Linked DNA regions of Homo sapiens: region 1 is linked to region 2. A link means that fine-mapping ties the variant in region 2 to the expression of a gene that starts in the linked region. Tissue or cell type: whole blood. Region 2 holds a variant in brackets; the other region holds the start of a gene. All regions are shown on one strand. Distances are between the middles of the regions.

Region 1 (2,686 bases), 65 kb before region 2:
ATTGCCAAATGTTTCTTTGCTGGGGAGGGGGATGTGAAATTTCCCCAGGAACCACTGTTCTACTCTTCGGCTTCATTTACCACCTATGTACCTATGGCTTCCTAATCCAAAAGCTCTGCTGGTTTCCAGAAGTATTTATCCAGCTGTCCCTTGGATATTTCCACCTTAATACTCCACAGTCAGCTCAAGATCAACCAATCCTAAAATGAATTGATCATCTCTCCTCACTCAGGACTGGATTCCCAGTGGCCCAAACCAGAAACCTCTCTCTCTGAGTTGAAATGCTTCTCTACAGCTCCCACCTGTCTTCCACCCTTTCCATGACCACTCCCGCTGCCTTAGCTGAGTCAGGATCATCTCTTTCCAGGATGATAACAGTAGCTTCCTCCTCTCCCTGCCTTCCCTCTGGCCCTACCCTTTCTGTTGTCTAAGTGGGCTTTCTAAAGCATATGCCTGATGATGCTCCTCCCTAGCTTTACATTGATTGATAGTTCCCACAGTCCTCAATATCAATGACAAATTCCTTAAAATGAGTGCTATGGCTTCAGAGTACTCCTCTACCTTGTCCTTGAACCCCAGCATTATTCTTTTCTTGTCCTTATGCCCTTCATTCAGGAATGTTATCTCCCACTTTCACCTGGCTCAATCTTAATCATCCTTGAAATGCAGTTCAAATGGAAAGACGCTATACATTTTTTTAGTTCCTTTCTTTTTTCTTGATTTCATACTTTATCACTATATTTTTAGAGACAGGGTCTCGCCATGTCACCCAGGCTGGATGGAGTGCAGTGGCATGATCATAGCTCACTGCAACCTCTAACTCCTGGGCTCAAGCGATCCTCCCACTTCAGCCTCAGGAGTAGCTGGGACTACAGGTGTGTGAGCCTCGCTCATTCCATATTATAGATCCTAACATTACATAACTATAAACCCAATTAACCTTATTCTTGAAGAAGCGAAACCCCCCAGACACCCAAACCACTCGGCTGGTGGTATTGCCAGGCGATGGGAGGAGCAGTCTCACTGCAATGTGACCTTGAGGCTATGTCCATGAGTCCTAGGCCCAATGCAAGGGGCTGTCTACTAGTCTCCTAGACTCTTCACTGGGAATGGGAGCTGAGGAGCGGCCATGATGAATAGCTAGTATCATTTCTTCAGGAAAAGACTCGTCTTTCCACTTTTAATTTGGAGGAAGAAGTTTGCAATTTTGTCGAGGGGCAATGTAGGCGGGGCAAACGTTTGCACAGCAAACGCAGCAGCTCTGCTTTTCCTATCTTGACCTTGAACTTGCCCCTCCCTGTGTGATTACCTGTTGAACACTGAAGTTAGTGGAGAAACACACTTCTCAGCACAGTCTCCCCCCATCCCCCCTCTTAAAACACGATGCCTCCCAGGATGCTAGTGGCACCACTGCCACTGCATTTCCTGTTGGCAGCAGTGAGCAGTGAAAACCGAAGCGGCAGAAGGCAGTGGCAGCAGGCAGTGGCAGCAGGCAGTGGCCCAGGCAGAAATAGCTCCCGCGCGATTCACTGGAGCCTTCCCCGGGCCCTGGTCCCGGCTACCGGGACTCGCGCGTCCGGATCTCAAAAGCGGCAGAGGCCACCGAAGGGACAGGAAGCACTTTGGTCCAGACCACACTCCCGGCACAGTGCGGAAAGAGCCGGCGGGAGCCACTCTGATCCCGGACGCCTCAGCGCCCCCTTGGGCTTGGGCTTGCCCTCGGGCCGGGGAAGGCTGACCGCGATGCCAGGACGCGCTCCCCTCCGCACCGTCCCGGGCGCCCTGGGTGCCTGGCTGCTGGGCGGCCTCTGGGCCTGGACCCTGTGCGGCCTGTGCAGCCTGGGGGCGGTGGGAGCCCCGCGCCCGTGCCAGGCGCCGCAGCAGTGGGAGGGGCGCCAGGTTATGTACCAGCAAAGTAGCGGGCGCAACAGCCGCGCCCTGCTCTCCTACGACGGGCTCAACCAGCGCGTGCGGGTGCTGGACGAGAGGAAGGCGCTGATCCCCTGCAAGAGGTACAGGTCATCGGCCCGCGGGGCGGGAGTAGGGAGCCGCGCGGGCATGGGGAGGGCGAGGTCGCAGAGGCCTGCGCCCTGTAACTCTTTCCGGCCCCTTGCAGCTCCTCCCTTCTCCCAGAGAGATCTTTCGCGAGGAGGGTCTCTTGGGGATAGCATGGTCCGGGACTGGGAGGGGCGCTGCGCCCACCGAGGGCGGCCTGCTGGCGGGGGACTCAGTAACACCCAGCGAGGCGGTGGCAGGTAAAGAAGGGACCCATCCAGGGCGGGATCAAGCTGCAGAGTGCCCCATGCCCAGGTTCGCCCCTGTTCTCACGCTGCTGAGTCAGGCTCTGGGCTCATGGAGCCCCCTGCAGTCTAGGGCGTGTCTTCTGCGCTATCTCATTTCTTTCTAGAGACATCTGCTAGAGAGGCACGCAGAATATGTATTTTCTAAGAAATACTTTTTGTATTTTAAAAGAATATGGCAAGATTACAAACGGTATGGGAAAGTGATAAAAAGAAAATTTCACCCACAAACTTAGCAAATTGTTACAGCATTAAAATTTTGGTCTACTCCTTTTAAGTTTTTTGTTTATTTTAAAGCAAATTTTACATACTATGATCAAAAGCCATACGTTATCTGAATCTTTTTTTAACTTAACATTGTCCCTTATATGTTCTTATTTGCCATT
Region 2 (2,686 bases):
TTATGTCTTAACAGATTTGCCTGATATATTTTTTTAAATTTCAAACCAAGGTCACTGTTCTGAAAGGGAATTTCAGAGATAATACATTGTTATTAAGGGATTGTTGCTAATTCCAAAACATATTCACCCTGTTAGACCCTGTGATATTAGCTCATATGTGCTTTTATTTTAATCTGTGATTAATGGGGTGATGAGTAGGGAATTTCAGGGCAACATTTTAAACTAAGTTCTTCTCATCTTTCTGTCAAAATCTTTATTGGGATCATAAATCTCAGCTCTCAGAAGAGGATGTGGGAATTAGATCCTATGACCGTTAAAACACCACATGGAGCTCAGCTGTGTGGACGCAAAGTAACTCTGCGTGGGGCGTGAGGTTGGGTGTGTGTTTGGAACCCTAAGGGTGGCCAGTTGAAGATTTCAGAGCCAAGGGCAGCTGAAGAAGCCAACTCCTGAGTTTTACACTAGCACAGAGGAGGATAGATTTTTATCTTGTGGTGGAAATAATATTTAACCTAGCAATATGTATGTATTTGGATGATGTCATACTTTCTTCTTGAAATATACAAACGCTTTGATGAATTTCTTTCATCTTTAAACTCTTTCATAATGAATCTCTTACATAATAAATCTCTTTAATATATTTTGCAGTCTTTGTATTCACACACAATTGTAAATTCTTAAAAGAAGAGCATATTTATTCTAAGTTCATATATTATTACTATTGAAAACAAAGACACAATAGATAAAGAGTATTGCATGAGCCCTGAATTGAAAACTATGCTTGGAAGACACTAACAGAACTATCAAGTCAGTTGAAGGAAAATATTTGCAGCCAGGCATTTCTTTCCCTGAAATAATATCTATGCCTTTTTAGTAGATGGCCTGAGGTGGCAAGGTAAGAGCTTCAGTTATTGTAAGTGAAAACCTCAGGATATGGCTGGGCATGGTAGCACATGCCTGTACGCTGTACTCAGGATGCTGAGGCAGGAGGATCTCTTGAGGCCAGGAGTTTGAAGCTATAATGCTCTACGATCACTCCTGTGAATAACCATGGCACTCCAGC[C/T]TGGGCAGCATAGTGGAGACTTCCATCTTAAAAAAAAAAAAAGGAAAATGTAAAAAAGTTCCAGATATGCTTAGAAGCAGATTTTTCAAATCCCATGGGGATGGGCTCAAAGAACAATATGATCAATAACCAGCTGACAATGATTAAAGCATCATCTTTGGAAGATGATAAGCTAAAGGTAAAGAATGTAAATCTTATTGCCTAAAACTCTTTGCAGTCAGCCAACTTAATTGAGTGTCTTTGAGAAAATTATTGTCTCATCTATCATATTGGTGCAATGAAAATAATACCTACATTGTACACATGTGGAATTTAAATAAGAAAATATTTTATATATCTACATAGCTCCTGGATATAGTACAAGTTTAAAACATTGTAGTTTATTATCAGGTTCCTGAGAGATGGCACCAATGGCAAAACGGTCACCAAAGCTATACCTTTAGAATTAGAGGATAATCCCAATTTTGTGGACAACATGTGGGTCTAAGCACCGTAGCATCTGTCAGCCTGTCCTGTCTCCTTTTTTAAAGAGCCAAATAGGAATTCTGTTGTGATTGAAGGACTTTCTATCCATCCCTGCAATCCTAGATGCTTTGGGATGCCTGCATAGAAGTTGTGCACTTTTTTCAAACACTGATGGAATAAAACAGTGTAATTACCTCTCTTTTTTTCACACCTAGCATAGAAGACTGATTTCAGGCTTTTTGAGGGGATTGGGTGGTGGTCCTCATCTGAGGATGAGGCTACATAAGTCATGGAAGACCTCGCCAATCCAGGTAGGGTACAACTCTAGGCCCTGTGTGGCTGGTCAAGGAGTCAGTCACTGGCTCATCTCTGGCCTCCCAGGAAGCTGGAGTTGAAAAGGATCTCAGGGTGATCAGATAGAGAACTGCAGAAGGGGAGGGTCAAGCCAGCTTCTTTCAGATTTATTACAGTCCCCTAAAGCATTAATGACCTTTTTGCCTAAAGCTAATACAGGGAAACTTTTAGTTCATTGACCTTCAAATAATTACAGCTGTTTGGAAAGCTTTTGGTCATAGAAACTGGCAGTACTTCCAAACATTTCAAAGATGTCTATCATCTTAATAGCACCTGTCCTTTAACCCTGCACACACACTCCAAAAAGGTTAACTAAAAAATACAACGATTAATTTTATATTCTGATGTTTTCTTATGAGCACAGCTGTGGCCACTTTAGTGTCCAGCAAAGCATTTCTTTGGCGAGTGATTTAGGGAGGGGTGGAAAGTGGAATGGAAAAAATCTCTGGAAAGTCTTTAACACTGGGGCGTATTTTCTCCCTGTTTCACTCCAAGGAATTCCCACTCATGGAATCTGGCCTATCATAAAGAACTTTTTCCTTTTGTACTTGATTCAACTTAGTAAATGATGTCAACCAGCTATGGTGAATGATGAGTGTTCCTCAAACCACAGAACAATAGACTTCATCGTTGAAGCTCTAAAAGAGCAGGAATCTGTCTGTTCCACTTCCCTCCTGCTGGGCACCATCTTCTAGCTCAGCTGGAGCCTCTTGTTCATAATTCCTCCCCTAGAGCAAGTCCTTTTTTGCTGAACTCTAGGACACCCGGCATGCATTCCTCTTCAACTGCCTTTGTTGGCCTGAA

The links. PIP is the estimated chance that this variant, and not a neighbour inherited with it, causes the effect.
Region 1: it holds the start of EPDR1, and the variant in region 2 is fine-mapped to the expression of EPDR1 in whole blood (INTERVAL, PIP above 0.99).

The regions. Positions count from the first base shown.
Region 1 is chr7:37,919,197-37,921,882 of GRCh38, forward strand. It overlaps EPDR1 (ependymin related 1), which reads left to right and starts at 1,444. Exons shown (of 3, transcript NM_017549.5): 1 at 1,444-2,012. The coding sequence starts at 1,744. RefSeq lists a silencer at 1,689-2,138.
Region 2 is chr7:37,984,660-37,987,345 of GRCh38, forward strand. No RefSeq gene overlaps it. Among named protein-coding and RNA genes, the nearest start is that of EPDR1, 65 kb to the left of the region's middle. RefSeq lists an enhancer at 2,227-2,686. The variant C/T (reference allele first, on the strand shown) is at 1,064.